Linked DNA regions of Homo sapiens. The protein of the gene in region 2 interacts with the protein of the main gene of each other region in a pairwise test. Each region holds a gene or a part of one and is shown on either strand. Other genes may lie near its edges.

Evidence for each region.
Region 1: the proteins of POLDIP2 (region 2) and PDPK1 interact in a two-hybrid assay, tested with the Homo sapiens proteins (one large-scale study listed by BioGRID and IntAct).
Region 3: the proteins of POLDIP2 (region 2) and CHCHD2 interact in binary tests that used the Homo sapiens proteins (3 or more experiments, as listed by UniProt).
Region 4: the proteins of POLDIP2 (region 2) and REV1 interact in a two-hybrid assay, tested with the Homo sapiens proteins (one study listed by BioGRID).
Region 5: the proteins of POLDIP2 (region 2) and ALAS1 interact in binary tests that used the Homo sapiens proteins (3 or more experiments, as listed by UniProt).
Region 6: the proteins of POLDIP2 (region 2) and DSCAM interact in a two-hybrid assay, tested with the Homo sapiens proteins (one large-scale study listed by BioGRID and IntAct).
Region 7: the proteins of POLDIP2 (region 2) and MTUS2 interact in binary tests that used the Homo sapiens proteins (3 or more experiments, as listed by UniProt).

The regions. Positions count from the first base shown.
Region 1 is NC_000016.10:2,555,021-2,558,520, reverse strand, and holds part of PDPK1 (3-phosphoinositide-dependent protein kinase 1), read right to left. Parts: intron 819-3,500; coding exon 558-818; intron 542-557; exon of another isoform or gene 1-541. UniProt on the Homo sapiens protein: Serine/threonine kinase which acts as a master kinase, phosphorylating and activating a subgroup of the AGC family of protein kinases.
Region 2 is NC_000017.11:28,351,028-28,354,527, forward strand, and holds part of POLDIP2 (polymerase delta-interacting protein 2), read right to left. Parts: coding exon 3,461-3,500; intron 2,765-3,460; coding exon 2,668-2,764; intron 2,290-2,667; coding exon 2,214-2,289; intron 1,993-2,213; coding exon 1,885-1,992; intron 774-1,884; coding exon 637-773; intron 1-636. UniProt on the Homo sapiens protein: Involved in DNA damage tolerance by regulating translesion synthesis (TLS) of templates carrying DNA damage lesions such as 8oxoG and abasic sites.
Region 3 is NC_000007.14:56,103,677-56,107,636, forward strand, and holds the start of CHCHD2 (coiled-coil-helix-coiled-coil-helix domain-containing protein 2 isoform 2 precursor), read right to left. Parts: upstream 2,801-3,960; 5' UTR 2,738-2,800; coding exon 2,688-2,737; intron 800-2,687; coding exon 550-799; intron 1-549. UniProt on the Homo sapiens protein: Transcription factor. Binds to the oxygen responsive element of COX4I2 and activates its transcription under hypoxia conditions (4% oxygen), as well as normoxia conditions (20% oxygen).
Region 4 is NC_000002.12:99,441,518-99,445,017, reverse strand, and holds part of REV1 (DNA repair protein REV1), read left to right. Parts: intron 1-2,548; coding exon 2,549-2,701; intron 2,702-3,500. UniProt on the Homo sapiens protein: Deoxycytidyl transferase involved in DNA repair. Transfers a dCMP residue from dCTP to the 3'-end of a DNA primer in a template-dependent reaction.
Region 5 is NC_000003.12:52,208,160-52,211,493, reverse strand, and holds part of ALAS1 (5-aminolevulinate synthase, non-specific, mitochondrial isoform 1 precursor), read right to left. Parts: coding exon 3,247-3,334; intron 212-3,246; coding exon 1-211.
Region 6 is NC_000021.9:40,837,159-40,840,658, forward strand, and holds part of DSCAM (cell adhesion molecule DSCAM isoform CHD2-42 precursor), read right to left. Parts: intron 1-3,500. UniProt on the Homo sapiens protein: Cell adhesion molecule that plays a role in neuronal self-avoidance. Promotes repulsion between specific neuronal processes of either the same cell or the same subtype of cells.
Region 7 is NC_000013.11:29,019,339-29,022,838, reverse strand, and holds part of MTUS2 (microtubule-associated tumor suppressor candidate 2), read right to left. Parts: intron 1-3,500. UniProt on the Homo sapiens protein: Binds microtubules. Together with MAPRE1 may target the microtubule depolymerase KIF2C to the plus-end of microtubules. May regulate the dynamics of microtubules at their growing distal tip.

The DNA.
Region 1 (3,500 bases), on a different chromosome or scaffold from region 2:
TGACTTGACAGTACTGCGACAATACTCCTGTTTGTGAAACTCGGAACACAAGACTCTGGAGGCTGTGTCTCCAGCAAATGTCCAGAGCGTACTGTTTTATGTATTCAAAAAAACAAAACAGAGAAATAAGAAGAGGTCAATAAATGTCCCCAAAAACCCTGGAGAGATACTAACTTTCAATCTAAGAAAAAGAACAGCTTCCCAGGGCCCTGCCAGTGAGACACAAGGACACAGAATGTAACTTGCTGATGCCAGGTTAAAATGAAATTAACTACATCAGAAAAAACCTCCGCAGACCATCAAGAGATGTGTCTAACGTTCTCATCTACAAAACCAGGTTAAATATTTAGCCACACTCATCACGTCATCTGCTTGGGGGGTACCCAGCCCCCAAAGACTCAAGTGGCCTTCACAACAGGTGACACCCCTCAAGGGGCCTGAGACCTCCTGCCTGGAAGGACACCAGCCTTGCTTGGAGTCTCCGGCAAGCCCCGAGGAAGGTGAGCCTCCCCAAGGAAATCACGTACGTTTGACACACAGCAGCAGCAAATACTCACCGTGGAAAAAGAGCCTTCCCCAAGGATTTTCCCAAACTTGAAGTCCTCAGGCCGCTTCTTCCGAGGCTGCGGCGGAGGCTGGGCATGCTGCAGGGAGCCGGCGCCGGGCCGAGGCTCGGCTGCAGTGCCGTCCATGGCGGGGCCCTGCCTGCTGCCACCAGGAATGCCAGGGGGCGTGCTGGACTCAGTCTGGGTCCTCACCATTGATGGGGATGGGCAGGAACATAACACCACGCTGGACTGGATGGGCACGGCGTCATACTAGGCGACAAAGAGGAAAAGGAAGTAAGGCTCAAGGCAGCTGCCTTGCTCTCAATGCACGGACTAAGGTTTAAGGACCTCATTTCAACGCTCAAAAACAAACCCCAAGCACAGGGCAGGCCAGCTGAGCCCCGCGGTCTGCTGTGAGCTGCCGGCCTCCTCTCCTGAGTCCTGCCCGTGCCATGGCTCCCCGCTAATCCACCAGGCAGCGCCTCGCCCTCCTCCTGTCCCTCGCGCTGCCTGAGCCTCCAGCCAACTCATCCCAAGGCCAAGGTAACCTGAGCAGAGATAGCACGGCACATCTTTAATTGTGGGGGGGATGGAGAGATAAGAGTGATGATCGCATGTGTTTACAATACACAGAGACGCCCAGTGCTGGCAAGACTATAATAAAGCGAGCGCACTCACACCACTGCGGCTGGCACCAAAAACCGGGATTGCAGTGGAAATGTTTTTGGAAAGCAGTTTGGCAACTGTCAACAAAGCGACTACAGAACAGTTGTCAATGAGACACAGAAATACGAAGGAGAGGAGGGAGGGCAGAAACCCAGTTAACAATGTAAGCGGGCACGGAGGGAAGATCAGCGTGCAAAGCTAGGTCGGCAAGACGTGCAAGGTGCACCCACAGCCATAACAATCCCTCCCCAGACCCCAACGTGTCCTCACGGTGGTGGCAGTGGCCCCCCGCACTACAGAAGAACAATGCGAGGCGAGCTCAGGCGCGCTGATGGTGGTTTCCGATACAACTCCCCACTCAAAGAACCCCGGAGAGCTCTTGATTCCATCTCTCAGTAGGGTCCTGAAGTCCATGCTGTCTGAAGACACAGGGTCTCCCCCTGCGTCTGTGCCAGGACAGAGGGACTGCCACCAGCCAAGCTGCAATCCTTTTAAACGCTAAAAACGGCCGGGCTTGGTGGCTCATGCCTGTAGTCCCAGCAGTTTGGGTGGATGAGGCGGGTGGATCCCCTGCGGTCGGGAGTTCAAGATCAGCCTGACCAACACGAATAAACCCCTTCTCTACTAAAAATACAAAATTAGGCCGGGCACAGTGGCTCAGGCCTGTAATCCCAGCACTTTGGGAGGCAGAGGCGGGAGGATCACCTGAGGTCAGGAGTTCGAGACCAGCCTGACCACATGGAGAAATCCCGTCTCTACTAAAAATACAAAAAAACTAGCCGGGCTTGTTGGCGCATGCCTGTAATGCCAGCTACTTGGGAGGCTGAGGCAGGAGAATCGCTTCAACCTGCAAGGCAGAGGTTGCAGTGAGCTGATAGCATGCCATTGCACTCCAGCCTAGGCAACAAGAGTGAAATTTCGTCTCAAAAAAAAAAAAAAAAAAAAAAAATAGGCCGGGCGCAGAGGCCAAAGTGGGTGGATCACTTCAGCCCATGAGTTCAAGACCAGCCTGGGCAAACACAGCAAAACCTCACCTCTACTAAAAATATAAAAATTAACCAGGTACGGTGGCATGTGCCTGTCGTCGCAGTTAATTGGGAGGCTGAGGTAGGAGGATTACCTAAGCCCGGGGAGGTCGAGGCTGCAATGAGCCAAGATCACATCACTGCACTCCAGCCTGGACGACAGAGGGAGATCCTGCCTCAAAAATAAAAAATAATAAGTAAATAAATAAAAAGAATATATTCACTATTTTGCTTATCAAAGTCTCTTAAAGGAGGTGACTTACCTACGCTATGGACCCAATTACTCAGCCAATAAGAGGACACGGTCCCTGCCCATAGAAAGCTGATGTCCAGCCTGACCTCAATACAAAACCATCCAGTTAAAGTGGTGGGGGTGGCTATGCAGAGACGGGCGGGTGCCGGGAGAGTCAAGGGCAGCCCCTTGGCTGGCCAGGGGCTCAGACAGACCAGCTGGGGAGATGCATCACTCGCCCAGGAAAACTGATGACAGCTTAGATGGCACTGCAAGAGCAGGGAGGATCACACTCATGTCCAGAAAGTGAAACATAAAACAGCTAAACATGTACCACACAGCTTTCATACAAAAATTTTATATACACAAATTTTGAAAAAATAGAGATGGGGTTTTGCTTGTTGTCCCGGCTGGTTTCGAACTCCTGAACTCAAGTGATCTGCCTGCCTCAGCTTCCCAAAGTGATGCAATTACAGGCATGTGCCACCATGCCTGGTGACTTTTTTTCTGTTTTGAGACGGGGTCTCACTCTGTCTCCCAGGCTGGAGTTCAGTGGCATGATCATAGCTCACTGCAGTCTCGACCTCCTAGGCTCAAGTGATCCTCCCACCTCAGCCTCCTGAGTAGTGGGACCACAGGTGTGCACCACCGTGTCCAGCTAATTTTTGTAGAGATGGGGTCTCATCATGCTGCCCAGGCTGGTCTCAAACTCCAGGGCTCGAGTGATCCGCCATCCTTGGCCTCCCAAAGTGCTGGATTACAGACCTGAGCCACCACACCAGGCTGCCCCACACATTGTAAAGTTTCGCTTCCCTCTAATGTCAGATTCCAAAGACAGCAGCCTTCATGAGTCAGAAAGAAACATCGGTCATTTTGAAATCAACATCCAACTGAAGTGTAGAAAGGCCTCTGGATTTTTGAAACGGCAACAACAGATGATGTAATACAAAGACGCCCCCACCCCACTGCTTTCCCACTGCATGCTTTACATGACATGGCACAGCTTCCACGCCAGCAGCTTCAATCATG
Region 2 (3,500 bases):
CTGGATGCCAACAGAAATCAGTTACAGGGCTCTTACCTTTTTCACTGCCCTCCTCACCAGCCCTGCCCCCTATCCTTGCTGCCCTGAGCCCCTGTCCTCCTCCTGTCTCCCATTACTGTCCCTTGCTATAATACTTTAAGTTGGCCTCCTCCACTACTATAAGGTCCTGGAAGACAGGGACGGTGTTTCATTTATATTTGTATCCAAGCATGCACTGACTATACGTACTTTTCTGACCTATAGCTTCTGTCTGTGGAGTTGGGCGGCCCCTACCACTGCACATGCTTACAGCCAGGCGATGTGTAAGTGTCTATAATGTGTAAAAAGTGTTATGCCTACACTGCTTTAAATAATTATGTGTATATTCTTCATAAACATGGCTCCCTTTGAGCAAGAGGGAAGAGACAGGATAAAGGATTCCTTCCTGGGACCTATGAGTTTTCCTGCCCGCTCTAGGTCTTGGTGTCAGCCACTGTCTAGAGGCTACTCAACCCCACCCAACACATGCCACCACTTGGAAGCAGAACCACAGGGACATGGTTTATATTTAGACTCCCTTCCCCCGGCAGTCACCTTAAGGACACCATACACCTTGGGGCCTACCCCTGCTAGAAGGGGTCCAGGCTGGCCACATACCCTCATGCCCATGTAGAAGGGGATGACAGTGACACGTATGTTCTCAGTTGTTTCCCGATGAACATCGGAGAGCTCCAGCCAGGGGTGATTCTTCTCTTGCCAGGCCCTTAGCGTCTCCCGAGCCACAAAAGGAGGTGCTGGGGCAAGATACAATTGGTTAGTCCAATTGTGTGTTGTGGATACAATTGTATCTAGTCCAATCACACAATAGTCCAGTGCGATTGCCCCTCCTAGAAAACCCTCCCTAGTGGTGGCCCAGGCAAACAAGGTGCTCATACATGAAGCAAAAGTTCAGGCTGGAAGAAGGCACAGGACTGCTACCAAGAATAAGCCCTGAGGAGCTAGTGTGATACAATGGGAAAACAATCGGACTGGCAGTTAAGAGCCCTGGTTTTCAGCCCTCACTCTGCTACTAGCAACCTTGAGTCCCTTGTCATCATCCCTGATCCTCAGTTTCCATATCTGTAAGGAAATAACTGCCATCTGTCATCTGTCAGGTATGACACCTATGAGGCATGACAGCTCTAACAGGAGGTTGAAAAGGGTTGTGGAAATAGAGCGTTGGAATTATTTCTTTTTTTTTTTTTTTTTTGGAGACGGAGTCTTGATCTGTTGCCGGGATGGAGTGCGGTGGCATGATCTCAGCTCACTACAACCTGTGCCTCCCGGGTTCAAGCAATTCTTCAGCCTCAGCCTCCCAAGTAGCTGAGACTACAGGTGCACGCCACCACACCCAGCTAATTTTTATATTTTTAGTAGAAACAGGGTTTCACCACATTGGCCACGATGGTCTTGATCTCTTGACCTAGTGATCTGCCCGTGTCAGCCTCCCAAAGTGCTGGAGTTATAGGCGTGAGCCACAAGCACCCGGGCCTTTTTTTTTTTTTTTCCTGAGATGGAGTCTCGCTCTGTTGCCCAGGCTGGAATGCAATGGTGCAATCTCGGCTCACTGCAACCTCCACCCTCCTGGGTTCAAGTGATTCTCCTGCCTCAGCCTCCCAGGTAGCTGGGATTACAGGCGCCCACCACCACGCCCAGCTAATTTTTGTATTTTTAGTAGAGACAGGGTTTCACCAGGTTGGCCAGGCCAGTCTTGAACTCCTGACCTCAGATGATCCACCTGCCTGGGCCTCCCAAAGTGCTGGGATTACAGGCGTGAGCCACCGTGCCCGGCCCTGGAATTATTTCTATGATATTCTTTGATGAAAAGGCCCTCCCATTCCACCTCCCCTTCTTGAGAGAGATTACCTTTTGTCTGGTCATACAGAAGAAATCTTTCAAAGAGTTCATGTTGGATGGGAACCTGATCAGTGGAGGTGTAGGGGAGGATGTCTTCATGGCTGACATAGTCCAAGCCTGGCACAGAGATGCAAAAGACAGTGGTGAAACTCACAGGAGAGGAGAGAGATGGGGTTGAGAAGAAACATTAACTGGCCTTGTTCCAGTATGGGATAACCCTGATATCATACCTCTCAGCATCATAATCCCTCCCAGTGGATGACAGGACATCAGAATCCTCTCCCTGAGACACACCAGACTCCTTCTTGACGGGCACCATTCAAATGCTAACTACTCACCTGGGATGGCATAGAGGGCCCGACTGTCATCATGGTTAGCCAAGAAGGTCACAGCTTCTGTCTGAGATCTCTGAGACTAAGGCAAGAAGTGAATCAGTGGTGAAACCATGTCTCTGCTAAAAAGTACAAAAATTAGGCTGGTGTGGTGGCAGATGCCTGTAATCCCAGCTACTCGGGTGGCTGAGGCAGGAGAATCACTTGAACCCGGGAGGCAGAGGTTGCAGTGAGCTGAGATCTCACCACTGCACTCCAGCCTGGCGACAGAGTGAGACTCCATATCAAAAAAAAAAAAAAAGACGTGAATCAGGGCTTTGTTGGCCACTGTGCAGTCCAAGGCCTTGGGGACCAAGACTGACCTGGGCTCTGTTTGACCCCCTTCCCTCCCTTTGTCCCCATTGGGATGCAGGACTTTCCATGGAGAGGACCCCCAAGCCCAGCCATCTTGCTTACTTACTATATGTGGGCAGTCACGAGCATCAATCAGCACCTGATAGTAAGTGTGAGTTTTGCCTTTCACCTCCTTGGAGCCATGGCCAGCAGGGTTCTCTGCTCTATGGGGTGGGAGAAGGAGGCCAAGATCACCCCAGGAGAAATGGAAGCTGTGGCTGACTCAGCTCCCTACTCCTCCTCACCTAAACAGGCTGGTCTCTGATCTAAAGGGGCTTTAGCACCAGCTGGACACCTGCTCTGCAGCACCTCAGCTCAGCTGCTCCTCAGTTGGGGCAAATAATAGAGCATGGAAGACCATGGTATGGAGCCATCATCTGACCGTGTGGATACCTCTTAAAAGAAGGGGGCCATGTTGAGAAAATCAAATTGCCACCTCAGTCCCCAGGGCCCAGAGTACTCTTGTCTTCTTATATCCCAGGGACTGTCTGTGATCACTTAATGGGGCTGAACCTTTTCTGTTTTAATGTATTCTAGGGATGATGTGAGATTGAGGGAAAGACTCCAGCTGAACATCAAGAAATCAAGAAGACTTGTCCCCCAAATGCCCTCTGGGATACTCATAATGAAAATTAGGAATGGCTTAGGAAAGCATTCTGAGGAGGCCTAAAGGGACTCTCTGACTTAGACTATCCCTGGCACTCAGCACTTTTGTCTCCATGGGTCTTAGTCCCAGAGAAGTACTCTGGGGATGTTTCCAAGGCCTAGGAGGACGCTGTCTTCACCCCTAGTACCCCAATTACATATGTCTGCCATCTCCTCCTGAGGATACTGTGAGGCACAACCACAGGGAAACTTACTTTTCTGGAGCTGCAGAAGCCACATCCCGGTCATACAGTC
Region 3 (3,960 bases), on a different chromosome or scaffold from region 2:
CAAATAAAGTGGAATTATTATCTTGTTATCAAGACTAAATGGTTTACTGAAGCTTCAGGGAGGAAAAATGGTACTATTATAGAAAACTGGATGGAGCAGTTTCAAGCACACCGGAAATACAAGAGTATACACACCTATGCTCATTAGACTAGAAAGCCCACACACATCAGAAAGATGGGTAATGGCAAACATCACGTAAAAGAACACACAGCTATGCGAGATTTTTGATTTGTTAACTAAGATCAAGACAAGATTAGTAGGAAGTGTCACTGGGATGAAATATTCAAAGGGAAAAGTGGTTGTTTTACAGTGAGTCAAGTGGACTGTTGTAAGTCTCCTCCTTGGGAAGAAACACAATTTGTACAGTACTTGTTGGTGCTGGCCTAAGGCAGTAACTCAACGGCCAAATGTGGCTTTAAAACCCATTGTCTATTAACAGCACAGTGGGTTCTAAAATCAAAGACAATTCCTACACTTAAGGAACTTACAAACGTCTGGCTTTTCTCATAAAATCCACCCATGGAAGGGAAATGCTGCCTAAATTCCCACCTGGTAAGTGATGTCAGGCCTCGCAGGCTCAGCATTACTTCCTCCACTGAAGCCCCCAGTAATGGCGTGACCCAATGTGTGCCCCACAGCAGAGCCCACAGCCACGCCAGCTGCAGTGGTTGCCATCTGGGCCATCAGACCTGGCTGCCGGGGCGCAGCAGCAGAAGAGCCAACTGCAGATGGGGGTGCCGCTGCTGGTGGCTGAGCGACTGGTGCTGGCCTGGGTGCAGCTCTCATCTGAGGGGCCCGGCTGTGAAAGAAAAGAAAAAAACATCAAGTTCCCAATTCCAACCAGTTTTGGAAATTGTCAACTTAAAATAACTTACATATTAAAATGGACCTCAAGATTTTCATTTCAAATTATTTACATCATTTTCTCTCTTCAATTTTTTTTTTTTTGAGATGGAGCTTCGCTCTTGTTGCCCAGGCTGGAGTGCAATGGTGCAATCTCAGCTCACTGCAACCTCCACCTCCCAGACTCAAGCGATTCTCTTGCCTCAGCCTTCCGAGTAGCTGGGATTACAGGCACCCGCGACCACCTCCGGCTAATTTTTTGTATTTTTAGTTGAGACGAGGTTTCACTATGGTGACCATGGCTGGTCTCCAGCTCCTGACCTCAGGTGATCCACCCGCCTCGGACTCCCAAAGTGCTGGGATTACAGGTGTGAACCACCACGCACGGCCTAATTTTTTTTTTTTTTTTGAGACAGGGCCTCACTCTGATGCCCAGACTGGAGTGCAGTGTCACGATCCAATCTCACTGCAACCTCTGCCTCCTGGGTTCAACCGATTCTTCTGCCTCCGCTTCCCAAGTAGCTGGGATTACAGGCGCGCACCACCACACCTAGCTAATTTTTGTATTTCTAGTAGAGACGGAGTTTCACCATGTTGGCCAGGCTCGTCTCGAACTCCTGACCTCAAGTGATCCACCCGCCTCGACCTCCCAAAGTGTTGGGATTACAGGCATGAGCCACCACGCCCGGCCACTTTAATCTTTTCTTATAATAGTAATAGCCTAGGACATACTAGTTTTTTCTGCTTCTTTGCAACAATTTCCATGTATTCGGATAGCCCACAGTATCTTTAAAGACATATCCAACATGTCATAAGAAATACAGACTACTAAAAGTTAGAAAGATTCTTACAGGATTCATTCATTCAAGTATTAGGTAACTACAAGGCGCTGGTAATGTAACTGTGAACAAGAGACAAAAATCTCTGCATTCATGGAGTTTACATTTTATTGACGGATCAAATAATTAACATAGGCTGCGGAGTGGTGGCTCTTGCCTGTAATCCCAGTGATTAGGGAAGTGGAGGCGAAAGGATCATTTGAGGCCAGGACTTTGAGACCAGCCAGGGCCACATAATGAGACCCTGTCTCTGCTAAAATATAAAATAGAATAAAGTCGCCAAGTGTGGTGCACAGGTGGCGCATGCCTGTAGTCCCAGTTACTCTGGAGGCTGACGTGGTAGAATAGCTTGAGCCCAGGAAGTCAAGGCTGCAGTTAGCCATAATTACGTCACTGCACTACAGCCTGAGTTAGACTCTGACTCAAAATATAAATAAATAAACATTCTAATTAGGACTTAAAGATGGTCAACTGGGGAAATAATCTAGTCCAATTCCTTCATTTTACACATTACAAAACAAGACTGGCCAAAGTGACTCGTCTGAACTATTATACCAAAAGCAACTTCAACTATTCCTCATCTGTTCAACGTTCAGATGCTTTCAACAATTTCGAGACCCCTTCTCAAATAACAAAAGACTAATTATGTCCTGCACGTATTTAAAAATCTTCATATGTATCACGCTCCCTCTGACCATTTCCGGATTATTTCCTTGGGTGCTCTTTTCCCCGAAATCAAGCTAGGTCAAAATTTATGCCTTCCTACCACCTGGCCATAACGTTATGCCTTTCCCGTTGTTTGGATAGGAAGCTTTTTCCGTAAGTGAATTCCCTCCCCACACTCCCCTAACATAGGCTTTACGTTCAATCTACCCCCGCCTGGCAGAGGCGAGCCCACGCCGCAGCCGACCTTAGTTCACCCCCGCCCGCGGCCTCCCTCTGCGTCATTGCCCCAGTAGAGTCCGGACGGCCGCGCTTTGGTCTCAAACCCTGCGATGGTCTCACCTGGCCGGAGGGGCCATGCGGGAGGTGCGGCTTCGGCTTCCACGCGGCATCCTAGGTAAGCGACGGCTAGGCCTCCGGACGTGGGACAACCACCGAAGAGCTAAGCGACTTCTGAGGAGACCGGAAGATGGGAGGCGGGGCTGGCCTCAACGCGCAACCAACCAGCACACAGGCAGAGAACTTCCGTTCTCCGTCGTCTCCGCAGGCCTGAAGTTCATTGGAAGAGCAGGACGTCACGGGGACGCCTCGTCCTTCGCGGTCAACGCCCTGAACTTGGCGCCAGGATCTTTAAAACCCGGAAGTTCCTGTGGTTCATCCGCGAACCTTGTCCTCCGGTCCTCGCATCAGAGCACTTAGCATTTTGCTTCCCTAGGGCAGCTGGCCTGTCGCTCCGTCCTTCAAACATTTGTATTAAATCCAACCTTAAGAGTGACTCACATCTCTGGCTGGATTGCCAGGGGACCTTGGGCAGATTTCTTAGCCTTTCTGAGCATTCAGTTATAAGGGCAAATATTTTTGGAGGCACAGTGTGGACGCGTAGTATGAACTGAATGAAAGAAATCGGTTTCGTCAAAAATAAACAGAGTTGAATTAGTTGTATTTGGTATTTCTCTTTCTTGTCTGTGGATCCAGTCAGCAAAAGTTAAATTCAGGCAGCAATAATGTTTTACATTTATGTATTACTATATATTTTCAGCTCCTTTTCATATGTATTATAGAATTTGTGTCCAGAATTGGGACAGTAACCATACACTGGTAAATTCAACAAAAATTTACTGTCTAACTGGGTTATGGAGATACTGCACCAAATCAGATAAGATTCTACCTTCACGAAGTTAAGTTTCAAGGAGGGGAGACACAAACGCCTACGTAAATCAGGTGGTGGTGACATGAAAAGAGAGGAAGGAGACTGGAAATTAGAGGTTAGGCGGGGCGGGGGGGAGTCATTTGAACGGAGCCCTTGAAGAGGTGGGGAAGCAAGCCATGTGTTTATGAAGATAAGAACACTACAGGAAGAGAGAACAGCAATTGCAAAGGCCCCAAGGATCTGTGCTTTAGTGATACTTGGTGTGAAATGCTTTTTTTTTTTTTTTGAGACGGAGTCTGGCTCTGTCGCCCAGGCTGGAGTGCAGTGGCGCGTTCTCAGCTCACTGCAGCCTCCGCCTCCCGGATTCAAGCGATTCTCCTGCCTCAGCCTTCCGAGTAGTTGGGATTACAGGCGCACGTCAACCCGCCTGGCTAATTTTTTATTTTAGTAGAAACAGGGTTTCGC
Region 4 (3,500 bases), on a different chromosome or scaffold from region 2:
ATGTATATATCAGAATATAGTTTCAATGTACATGAAAAAACTCAGTGTATAAGGAAACCGTGTAGTATTATCTTTTGGATAAAGATGGATTTTTTTATTATCCTCTCCTTTTGGTTTTGAAAGAATAGTAGAAAATGTCAGTACAGTTCCTTTGCGCTTAGAACAAGAGGGGAAATAGTAAATGTGAGAAATTAATCCCAGAGAGATTTTTAAAAAGGTCTTATACAAATATGCTTTCAGATAATGTTTCTGTCTATATATCTATAGATAGATAAATGGGCAAGCAGGGGTAGTTAGGAGTATACAACTGATAGATAGTGGTTTAGGCTTCAAATTATAACTGACATTACTTCACTAACATTACTGTAGTGCATTGGGCTTTAATTCTTTTTATTGAGTATCTCTGAGGATATCTGATTTGAGACTTGCAGTATTTAAATTGGCTGTCTAATTTTGTAGCAGTCTCCATGGACTGACTTATGTAAGCCTAAGAATTCTGTGGGTGGCCACATGGCTCTTGTTAGGAGCTGGATAAGGCCTGACACCCTTGTATATGATCAGTGCTGACCATAGAGAGTACCTGTAGAGTCTGCATCACTCCAGCATGCTGTCAGTAGGGCAGGAAAAGCGAGAATGATCATAGGGCGTTTTGTTCCTTGCACTTTTGGTTTTACCTGAGATGTGCAGCTGGCACAGTGGGTGTAGTTTCACTCTCTACTTGTCTCTTAGTTATAGCTATCTATGATAAAGGATGGAAAGCTAAGGTTAGGATTTTATTTCAGGTATTAAGTAGCTGTACTTCTTTTGGTGGGGGAAGCAAGTGAGTTTGATATACATAATACCACAGAACAAAGATTTATAGTTAGGCAATTGAGACCAACTATTAAAGGAAGAAAAGGGCTGGGCGCGGTGGCTCACACCTGTAATCCCAGCACTTTGGGAGGCAGAGGCGGGTGGATCACGAGGTCAGGAGATCGAGACCATCCTGGCTAACACGGTGAAACCCCGTCTCTACTAAAAAAATACAAAAAATTAGCCGGGCGTGGTGGCAGGCGCCTGTAGTCCCAGCTACTCGGGAAGCTGAGGCAGGAGAATGGCGTGAAGCCGAGATCGCGCCACTGCACTCCAGCCTGGGCGACAGAGCGAGACTCCGTCTCAAAAAAAAAAAAGGAAGAAAAGTTGGTTTGAGGAAGAATAAAGTAAAAAATAGTCGAATTTTAGGGTTTCGATTCTAATATTTGAATGTAACCTGAAATTTTGAATGTATTTTGAATGTAACCTGAATTTTGGTAAAACATTTAGCCTGGTCATAAATCCATTTGGTTACATGTCTTGCGACTAGTATAGTATGTTCTTTACCATCATAATTTAATAGTTATAGCATTTGATATAGGTTAAGGTACTTTAGGTAGAATTGTTAAATATATATTGACATAATTATATAAAGGACATACTCTGTATCATATATAGTTCCGTTTTTAGAATCTGTTAGTATGTTTTCCTGTATTCCAAGTTGTTGACTCAGTTATTTTTAATTAGTATTCTGTAAGCCAATTCAGTCATTTCTTAAATGATTATTTTTTAAAAAGTTTTGTGTGACACCATTTAAGAAAATGAAAATGTCAAGTCTTGGATTTATGAGACAATAAGAAACATATTTTTATCATGTTATTTATCAGTCTTTTTCTAAATAACTGAGGGATGATTCCTTGGTATATATTTTAGGTTTAAAATCCAGAGGTTGTTTTGAAATATTTTCTAATATTAAAGTAGCTTGTTTTGAAATTTGGATGATAGCATAAGTATATTGATTGGTTATTTTTAAATTTGAAGTGAAATGATAATTTTAAAGGTAGAGTAGCCATATATAACTCAGTTTATTAGCAAGAAAATGTCAGTTTTAGATACTGCAATCAAATTAGTTTTAGTTCTGAAGTACAAAAGGAAGCAGACATTTGGGAACTTCAGTTACAGTGCTAGTACCACCTAGCGTTAGAACACTGGTGTTCCCCTGGATTTGAGTGGTGTTGTGTGATATGCTGTGAGGATGTACATGGTAGTTTTGGCCCTTGTAGAGTTCATATCTTCAAATGGCCTTGGCTCTTAACCATTCTTGTATACATAAAAATAGTATAAATTATTACTCTTGAAGTTGAGATTCTTTATTTTGTCCTATATTTTTATTTTACAGTTTCTGACATGAATTTGGAAATTGAGCATCCTTATTCAGTTTATTTATCTTGGAAAACCTTAATAGATGAGATTTTGATGAAGTCTTGATGATTCTCTGTTAACTGTTGACAGGGTGGTAAATACTAAAGTCATGAGGTTTAAAATATTGACTAGTTCAGCTCTGTGCTTGCAGTTTTTCCCCACTCTAAGATCATATTGTATTAGGACCACTAAAACCGAGCAAGAAGGAATAAACTAGGAAAACAGATGACCTGTTGTTGGTGAAATACTGTATCTTTAAGGACATTGAATATTTTTCATGAAGCTCATTGTCACCAAGTATGGAACTCTAAATTGGTGTTGCTTTTTGTTTCAGCATCAAAGCTGGACGACTCCTCTCCTACATTCCATATCAGCTGTACACCAAGCAGTCCAGTGTGCAGAAAGGTCTCAGCTTTAATCCTGTATGCAGACCTGAGGATCCTCTGCCAGGTCCAAGCAATATAGCCAAACAGCTCAACAACAGGGTGTAAGTTTGTCTAGTTGGGGATTACTGCAAAGCTGGTTGGTTTTTTTTTTTTTTTTTTTTTTTTGAGATGGAGTTTTGCTCTTGTTGCCGAGGCTGGAGTGCAATGGTATGATCTCGGCTCATTGCAACCTCTGCCTCCCAGGTTCAAGTGATTCTCCTGCCTCAGCCTCCCGAGTAGCTAGGCTTACAGGCGTGTGCCACCACGCCTGGCTAATTTTTGTATTTTTAGTAGAGACGGGGTTTCACCATCTTGGCCAGGCTGGTCTCGAACTCCTGGCCTTGTGATCTACCTTCCTTGGCCTCCCAAAGTGCTGGGGTTACAGGCATGAGCCACCACGCCTGGCCACAAAGCTGGTTTTTAGCAGTGAGCATGGCCCCTGCTCTGTTACAGTCAGACAGAAGCAGATACAAACCCTGGCCATTCACTTATAATAAACATGTTGAAATATGTGTGTATGAGTGTCTTATCTAAAAATGAATTATTTTTATAATGATAATTTCATAAATGTAAGTAAGTTTTTACAGTCATACTGGTTTCTCACCTTAAACTAGTGGATCTTAATTGTTAATAAGTTTTTTCATGGATTTTTATGAAAGTAATTATTTCCTCACAAGTAATTTGCTGTATTGCTTTCTCAAAAATGGAACTAACTGCACCAGCTATATTTTTGTTGTGTTCCATGCATAGAAAGACAATGAAAATGTTAATATTTCTGGGTTATTTTTGAAAAATTCAAAATTCATAACATTCTAAATATGTAAATATATAAATGGAAGTTTAGTTGGTGACCCTTGGTTA
Region 5 (3,334 bases), on a different chromosome or scaffold from region 2:
ATCTGTCTCATGAGTTTGACGTTGCGCTGGTGCTGGCGGCGAAGCACCCGTCCCTCAGCGCTCTTCAGGATCCGCACAGACTCCAGGGCTCCAGCCAGCAGCATGGGTGGCAGAGAGGTGGTGAAGATGAAGCCAGCAGCATAGGACCGTACGGTGTCAATCAGAGAACTCGTGCTGGCGATGTACCCTCCAACACAACCAAAGGCTTTGCCTGGGAGGAGATAGCTTCATTAATTACAGCAACAGCTGTAAATTGCTCTAAATGGACACAGCAAGGTGTTGTGGAGCCTCAAAGCACTGACTTTTCTCCTTATCTTTTTAATTTGTTCCTGGACTGATTGGAGTAGTCATGCACCACATTAATGATGTCTCAGTCAATGACGACCACATATATGATGGTGGTCCCATAAGATTATAATACTGTATTTTTACTGTACCTTTTCTATGTTTAGGTATGTTTAGATACACAAATACCATGGTGTTGCCAACAGTATCCAATACAGTAACATGTTGTACAGGTTTGCAGCCTAGGAGCAACACGCCATACCACAAAGCCTAGGTGTGCGGTAGGCTATATAATCTAGGTTTATGTAAGTACACTCTATGGTGTTTGCACAATGATGAAATCGCCTAGTGATGCAATTCTCAGAACACATCCCCCATCGTTAAGCAATGCATGACTATAAAAGGATATCTAATCTTCCTTTTTTTTTTAGAGACAGGGTCTTGCTCTGTCACCCAGGCTGGAGTGCAGTGGCATGATCATAGCTCTCTGCAGCCTCAACCTCCTGGGCTCAAGTATTCCTTCCGCCTCAGCCTCCCAAGTAGCTAGGACAGGTGTACACCACCATGCCTGGCTGATTTTTTAAATTTTTATTTTGTGTAGAGAGGAGGCCATGCTTCGTTGCCCAGGGCTGGTCTCAAACTCCTGGGTTCAAGTGATCCTCCTGTCTCAGCCTCCCAAAGTGCTGGGATTCAGGTGTGAGCTATCGTGCCTGGCTACTCACTTTTAAAAGGGTAAAAAAGCTAAGGAAAGTTACAAAAGGGTCTTGCCCAAAGTCATATGGCCAAGCTGGTGTCTAACCAGGATCAAAATGCAGGTCTTCCAATCAGACCTGACACCTCAGTGACTGGTCCCAGTGTGCCCAAATACCCTGCTGCTGCCTCCCTTCCCACCATCTTATTCTCCTTTCCCTTTCTCACCCAGGCTTGCTGCTCTGACAGCCAGCACAGCTCCACTCCCCATGTCTGCACTGCATGTGCTCTTTGGAACAAGACTGGCTCTGCAGTGCTTGTACCATCCTCCCACAGGGAACATTATCCCAGAGGCTGGAATTTTACCCAGCTAAGGCATTAACTGTTTTGGTATGACTGGTGTTATTTCCTACTTAAGAACAAAACTCTTGACAATTAATGCATTAGGATTGATTTAGGGCCAGACTTGGTTTTCAATTCTCATTGAGTCCTTTTGTGTGATCTACATCTCAAGTTTCAGGATTAAAAACTCCAGAAGAGGCCAGGTGCAGTGGCTCACACCTATAGTCCCAGAACTTTGGGAGGCCGAGGGGGGCAAATCACTTGAGCTCAGGAGTTAGAGACCAGCCTGGCCAACATGGTGAAACCCCGTTTCTACTAAAAATACAAAAATTAGCCAGGCATGCTAGCGCACACCTGTAGTCTCAGTTATTCAGGAGGTTGAGGTGGGAGGATCACTTGAGCCCAGGAGGTGGAGGCTGCAGATGAGCTGTGATCACACCTGGGCACAGAGTGAGAGCCTGTCTCAAAAAACAAAAAGAACTCCAGAAGAGTCTTCATAGATCTTAACATAACATTCTATAATTAATGTTTTTGCTAAAACCACATGCAAAGCTGGGTTGGTTCAATCTCCTATGGTATAAAGTTTCTCTCTCCAGCCTTTTCCATCTCACAATGACCATACCTTCAAAGAGCCCACATCAGGAGACATCCTTAAAAGAAAAGAGCTTCTGGCCGGGTGTGGTGGCTCACGCCTGTAATCCCAGCACTTTGGGAGGCTGAGGCGGGCAGATCACGTGGTCAGGAGATTGAGAACATTCTGGCTAACACGGTGAAACCCCGTCTCTACTACAAATACAAAAAATTAGCCAGGCATGGTGGCGGGTGCCTGTAGTCCCAGCTACTTGGGAGGCTGAGGCAGTAGAATGGCATGAACCTGGGAGGTGGAGCTTGCAGTGAGCTGAGATCGCGCCACTGCACTCCAGCCTGGGCAACAGAGTGACACTCCATCTCGGAAAAAAAAGAAAAAAAAGAAAAGAGCTTCTTGAATTAAGACACATGATCAGGTGTTTTTCTCCTGGTAGTGGTTCCACCCTTAGAACTCCCAGGCTTTCTGGGTCTGCACTAGGTTCTCATACCCCTTGACAGTGCTGAAGGACGCTTTTTAAAAAGCCTGCCCTTCCTTTACCAAGCATAGGCTATAAACTGGCATTTTAGCTAACTGCTAGATGGGTTTCCAACTGCCTTACCCACTTCTGAAGGCTTAAAAAAATTCTTCAAAATTACAAAAATTCTTCAAATTTATGTAATTTTCGTCTCTTTAGGGTTCTCATAGGTTCTCAGAGGGAATGTTTATAATAACTGTTTGCATACAACTTATTTACCTTCTCCACATATATTTTGATTTAGGTCCTATTGTTTTCTCCATTATATTGATGATGAAACTGAGGTATAGAAAGGTTAACTACCAACTCAAGGTCACACAACTAGTGAGGTGGCAGGGCTCCAAAGTCTAGCTCCCATCTACCACGAGACATAGCCTCTGTATGAGGAAGAGCAGAGGAAAACCAGGATGAATTAGAATGTTCCCACGTGGCAGGCACGGAGTTCAGCACTTCACAACACCTGAACCTAACAAGTGCTCCAGGAGAAAAGTACTAGAATTCCTTTTTCTTTTTAATTAAGAACAGCCTGAGGCACAGAGAGTACAGGCTCTTGCCATGGCATGGGGCTAGACCCACAACTATGTCTGAAATGAGCTCAGATAGCAATAAATGGTCTATCAGTGTGTTAGGCTGTGGGATTTACTTTGATTCTAAGAGCCATGCCTCCATGACCCAAGGGATTCCACTAAGCTGGGCCAAAAGAAAGAGTGGCCCAGGCTTCATATGCTGTCAGGCTGTCTCCTCACCTGATCCCAGTTAGACTAGTTAGTCCTTGGCCTTGTTAGGATAATGGAATTTTAGTGTATGTAATACAATGTATACATACCAAGTGTTCCAGAAATGATGTCCATTTTTGGCATGACTCCATCCCGATCCCCAATCCCTCCGCCTCGAGCCCCATAAAGCCCCACTGC
Region 6 (3,500 bases), on a different chromosome or scaffold from region 2:
TGGGGCTGGCACAGCCTCTTCCTCCATATTCAGTGTTCCCATGAACATTTGCCTCCGCTGCCTCCAAGCATCTAATCCCACAGAAGCCTACAGCATATTCTATATTCTTACTCTCCCATCCTCAGCAATGGGGCGGTAGAGGTATGGGGGAGAGTGTGGGGCCCCTCGTGCCTGTGATTAATAAAGGCTGATGATGTGAGATCCCCCAAGACACAAATAAACCAACCACTGATGAGAGTTCCTTGCCCAAAACAAATACCTAGATCACCTCGAGGTCCACATTTTTCTACCCAGATTTCTATACAAATATTCAATGAAGCCTATTCTAAAACAGTAGCCACCAAGGATTTAATAGCTATTGATTTGGGTGAGTCATAACAGACACATCTGGTAATTAACCATCCTACCCACATTCTGCTGTCACGTTAAGGACCCGGATAGAGGTTGCTAACTTGGGCTGCCAACTTAAACAACTTGTGAAAGGAGGATTCTGTCTGTTAGACAGCATTCCACATTTCTTGTGCATTTCCTTTTCACTAGCCAACGAAATAGACAAGTGACTAGCCTTTGCAGGAACTGACAAGAACTAGATCCGGCAGGAGTGATAAAGTAGTCATGGTTCCCGTTTTGCTGGTAGAGGCCATTGTTGTCATTGTTGGGTGTCTTCAGCTCATTCCTAAAGTCTCACAGGTAATATTCCAAAGCATTGTTATTTCTACCCTGCAAGCTACATATCAGTTATTAAAAATGCTCTACAGCCGAGATTAAAAAATAAACATGGCAATTAAGCAGACTGGGACTTGGATTTTCTGTATCTCTATGGAACCCAAGATCAAATCACACCACAGCGGGGCTAACTGTGAAAAGAATTGAATCTTGAGTTTCTCTCGTGAGAAAGTATATTTCCTTAAAGTAATAAGTTTCCTTATTATATAGGAAATATAGCTGTCTTTTGTATTTAAAAAAATAAATTAAATTAAAATATACATAGAATTGCAGCAGTTCTAATTATCTTTCTACTTGTCTTTCTCTTATGATACAATCACAGAAATGTTCCCATCATCCAGCAGTTCATGCTTATGAGAAGAATCAATGCTTTACTCAATATTAGGAAGATTAATCAATGGTAAGAGAGTCCACTGCAATCACCCACCTGAAGTGGCATGGATGGCTCTTCAGTATACGGCATGGGCTACCTCCCAACAGCCCCCCTCAGCCCCTGTGACCCATTCACGCTGGTCCTAACACCAGCTTCTACCTGATCATTGTGGTGACTCCATGATAATGCTGAAGCCACTTTGGGACCCTCAGGTCATCAAGGTCAACACTGGGAGTGGTATCACCATACTGCTGTTTTGCAGAAGCATCCAATAATGAGAAAGTTGGGATATTTAGAAAGAACTATAAGCTGGCTTTTACTGTTTTATTTTCAGTGTGAAAAAAGTGTAAATTTTATGTAAAACCAGACTTAAAACTGTTTCCTGTTTCTTCATTTTAATACTAAAAGAGTCAAGGCTTGTATGAATCAAAATCAGTAATTAAATAGTTCAAATTTCTTTCCATCACCTTATCAAAATGCCAATTTCATAGTCTGGAGAGACTAGCGACAAAATGATCCATTTTATAGATGGTTCTTTATAAGACAAAAGGCAAACACTTTCCACAGCATCATCTTCTAGGGCAGGTCTGATTTTGTCCAGATTTCCAACCTGTAAATCAGCAGTATTTGCATAAAAATTCAACGATTCTACTATTAATAAAACCCAAAGCCCACTTGGAACCAGGAAAACCAGAATGCTATAAGTAACAAATACAGGCCTAGAAAGGAAAACTATTTCATTTCTTTTTTTATGCTAAATTGTATATACTTAAGGAACCTGGGGGACATTAGCTAAGTGATATATGCCAGACACACACATACAAAATCCATGATCTCACTTATATATGGAATCTTATAAAGACTATTTCATTTATAAGAGCATGTGGCATTCTTTTTCCCTTGTCCAATAACATTTGTGTCAATCACAAAGCCTGGGGTGATATTGTCTGCCCGACACAGACTGACAAATAAGGACTTCATATATTGCAATTTAAAACCCCAGAGTTTGAGAACAGGTTAACATGGAGGGACTTGTGATAATCACAGGATCCTAAATTTGAACTCTTCTCTCAGTAATTGCTTTATTACTGAGATGTATGCAGATTTCACCCTCCTACTATTCTGCCGTGAAACATCTTTAAGAAAGGCAAGGCTTATTGCAGAATAAATATTTGTAGCAGTGCTGCAAGTTCAATGTCCTCCCTTCACCTCCAGTCTTTTGTTCAGACCTACTCAAGCTGTTTCCAGATAATATATATATTGCCTTCTCATCCCCAGCTTCCCAAGCCTAACATAGACTTAAAGACTGAGAGCACTTCTAGAATATTCTGCAGAGAGTCCAAAGAGATTTCATAATATTTCTGCAAGGGTTGGTATGCTTTTTTTTTTGTTTTTTTCTCCTACAAAATGCTGTACAGAGCTGGGACGTTAGGGGAAGCTAGCATTTAGTATGGAGGTGATCTCTTGCATTTTCAATTCTTTCTTTCACTGTCTTTGCGGCTGCACTTAAAAACAGCTTTCTATAAATAGGACTGCTTGCTCACTCTTAAATCTTACTCACTGTCTTCTCAGTAAAAAAAATAACTAGGGATACAGGCAAGATTCATTAATCCCTGTCATTCTAACTCTCTGTGTAGTAGCCTCTTTCCTTCTTCATATCTTGACATATATCTTCTCAATCCCATTCATCCCTCTCTGTTAAACCATAATATGTATTTACATAATCCAGGGGGCTTCAAGATCAAAAATTAATCCAGTTGCATGATTTTTAAAAAATCAGCGTTGATCACATAGAACAAATAGAGATGTCCAAAAATCAAAAGCTGATAAATATTGTAAGCTATAAGACACTTAATTTGATTTTTATATTTGGACAAAAATCAACTTTAACAATGATTAAGATATCCTTTCATGTTACTTTGATGAAGATAGCAACTGTCATATTTGAATCTGCAAAATAAGAAATAAAGATAATGACAAAAAACCCATAAATCCATAGGATGCTGAAGAAAACAGTAGTATGACTTTTTAAAGATGAATTAAGGCCTGAGAAAGTAAGCTTTGTTTTGATGTCCTGGGTGGCTCTTTGATGAAGAAATGAATTCCCAAGAGCTGGGGGTGGCGGAGTGGGCGGGGAACCTAAATGTCGGTTTGATGTTTCTGGCTGGCTTTCAAAATGCGACAGGGCAATAAACACTGTATAGGAATTTTAAATCATGCCATTTAGCAGCGTACACTTGAGAACAAGGGGTCCAGCACATGGATGAAATTATTGTCTGTGACACTTGACCCACTGCACGGCAGGAAGAGCACCTAAAGCAATTACATAGCTGTTGTGCAACAGTGATGAAGTCCCATCAGATACTCGAAATATGAATCTCTTTTTGAAAAGAGAAGAAAA
Region 7 (3,500 bases), on a different chromosome or scaffold from region 2:
ACACAGGATATGCTTTTCTGTTAAAGTAGACTCACAGATCACCACTAAACCATTCTATTCAAGGTTGACATTGTTTCATCCACTATTATGAGTGCATTTTATTAGGCACTGGGGATAGGGGATTTTAACAGCAACAAGGTTCTGCCCCGTCACCAATTCCCCCAATGGAGACTTGAAGCCTTCCACACTTTCCTCCTCATTCATCAAGAATGTGCAAGCACACGTGCACACCACATGTGAGGCTACTGTTATGTTTCTCCTGAAACAGGTTACATGGCAACGTGGCCACCCACTTGTTTTCCCTTTATCCCTGTTAATATGTTGTTTCATATATTAAAAAGAATATGAGGGCTGGACACAGTAGCTCACACCTGTAATCCCAACGCTTTGGGAGCCTGAGGTGGGAGGATCACTTGAGGTCAGCCTTGGCAACACAGCAAAACCCTATCTCTATTTAATAAAATGTATATGTTACAAAGCAAAATAATATAACACGTGACAGCCCATCACCCAACCCAAGGACACCTTGCAGCCATCCTCATGCTCCTCCTCACTGAAGCCCTCTGTGTTTCCAACTTAGAGATCTCTTTTCTTTTGCGTCTATACATAAGCATGTAAACTTTTTTACATACATAAGATCATTTCCTATAAGCTGGTTTTTGTTCCATTTTTTAAAATTTGCCTCTTCTAGCCCATACCCCAAGACACATTAACATCTAGATCTTTCCATTTCTTTCCCCATGTTTGCATGATCATGGGAAAATACAGAGTCATACATGTGCATGTGCGCTTGCATTTCCGTACCACACTGCTCTTCTGTTCTTTCCACGACTCCCTCACTGTCCTCATCCTCCCCGCTCTCATGCTTTTTCTCCTTCTCCATCTTCTACCAGCCTTATCTCCACTAAGCCAGTAGCACCCCCTGGTGCAGCCTGACCCCAATATAGCCCTCAACCAAGTTGCTCATACCCTGATCACAGTCTTCATTTCCTGACACAGAGGGGATTCTCAACAAACCCTTGTGTCTTTGTTTATTCAATTTTAAAAGCGTTTCCCTTGAAGATACACATGTTCTCTAAGCACAAATACAAAAAGCATGTAGGCAAATCAATAAGATCACAGTTTAAAAGAATGCTGTGCTCTCTGGGATGAGAAACGGGTATCTTGCAAAGTCAAGAAGGGCAAGAAAGTTCATAAATATAGGCCATCCACAGAAGGGAACTGCCTCTAATTTTCTGTGGGCAGAAGTATAAATATGCAGCCAAGAGCCCTCTTCGGTTTGAATTGTTGAAGCTGGGAGAAAGAAAGAAACTTTGCTCAGCAGAGACAAACAAAAACAAAGTACCAAAGTCCACAACATGTAACATGATTGCAAGAAAGTGACAAAGAAATATAAAACCAATGTCATGCTAGAAAGAGTTGTATTTTAATTTTTAAGGAACTACATCATAAATGTTCTTTATCTTTGTCAGTAAACAACTGGTACTCACTGGTAAGGGGACAGAAAGAAAGGTGGAACCTCCTAGGGGCCCAGTATTTTCTCAGCCATTATACAAATTTGTTTAAAAAATTGAGACAGTATCTCATTCTGTTGCCGAGGCTGGAGTGCAGTAGCACGTTCATAGCTCACCACAACCATGAGCTCCTGGGCTCAAGAGATCCTCCTGGGTCAGCCTCCCAAGCAGCTGGCACTCCAGGTGCACACCACCACATCTGGCTAATTTTTTAATTTTTTGTAGAGATAGGGTCTCGATACATTGACCAGACTAGTCTCAAACTCCTGGCCTCAAGTGATCCTCCTATCTTGGCCTCCCAAAGTGCCAGTATTACAGGCATGAGTCACAGCACCTGGCCTAAAATTTAATTTTAAATTAAAATTACACAATTACAAGTCTTTAATATTCAATTTTAATTTAAGTTAGGACACTTAATAATATTTATAGCAGGCCTCCAGAGACAGGTCTTCACATCCCCTTGCTTTTTTTTTTTTCCCACGTCCTGGTAAGGAAATGAAAGCACAGAGAAGGTAACATTCCCAAGGTCACACAGCTCATGAGTGGCAGAGCTGGGACACATTTAGAAAGCAGAAGCTGTAAAGAAGAAAAGCTGCCCATGAATGGAATCATACACCACACAGGAAGAACAAAAGGAAAACAAACTATTGTAAGAACAAGAATAGAAAAACAAAACCAGAAACCAACACGTGGAAGTTCACATAAGACAGGAAAAGCAAATTTAAAAACTTTCTTCAATTTTATCAGGCAAAATTATATACAGGAAGTCATGTTTCCTGTCAGCTTCCCTCCTCCTTATGTGGCCTCACGCGTCTCCCTCACTCCAGCTCCCTCATCCTGCCATAAGACAGCGGCAAAGTAAACACAAACACGAATTTCTGTCCGGATCTAAATTTCAATCCAAGGCCTTCTACTAAGATAAACGTTTTCACAGAATATATAACATGATCACAGAAGTTCAAACTTGTACATAATACAAGACTGTGTGTGATTAAATAAAATATGCAAATAGGTCAACCAATGGTACAAACCCCTAGTTGAGGTGCATTTTCCCAGAGTGAGACATGTAACTTTCATATGCCTCAGATCTATTATTACAAAAAGTTAACAATAATGGCCTTAGAAGTAATTGATATTTTATCTTGAAAAAAATCAATTAGTTCAGTACTAGTTTGAAAGGAATGTAAAGATCTAGGCTTATAACCTACCTGATGCTTAAGAGTCTTCTAAGTGGCTTCCCCTGGTTCTAGGGCCAGAAAACTCACCACACATCTGGGCAGGGTCTCTGTTGGCAAGCTCTGCCTCTCTACAGCAGAATGATGCAATTCTTCCACCAGATGACCTTTCAGGTATTTACAAAGAGCTATATGCTCCCTTCCTCCCAAAACCTATTCTACTCCTTGTCAAAGAACTCAGATTCTCCCAACTGTGGGATTAGCTTTTGAAAACTCCCACCATCCAAACAGCTTTCCTCTAAGTACACCGTGTAGCACCAGGGAACCTGAAGTCCCTCCTAAACAAGGTGACCAGAGCTATGCACAATACTTCAATTCTAACTGCACCATCTAGAGTCATAAGAAAGCAAGCCTTCCATTCTCTTCTACTTCTAACCACGCATTCTAAGAATGACCTCCTCATGGACATATAAATCACCCTCTAGTTCCACATCATTAATTAAAACACCAAAGTACCATATAAGTTGTCCTAAACTCCACTGACCCAATCCGAGACATTTGTAACTGGTTTTAGCACCCATGGGTGGGATCATAAAAATATACTTCTCAAACATCACCTTGCTGGTCTCAATGCATCGTTCTATCCTTTTAAAACTTGTGGAGCCCATCCTTAATTTTTCATCGAAAATATCTGCAATCCATTCTTGTTCCCATACTATCGTGGAAAAGCTAAGAGTTCCTTCTACATTATCATTCATTGATAATCCACTGATAAATCACTCACTGGTGTCATTCATCGACACCAATGTTA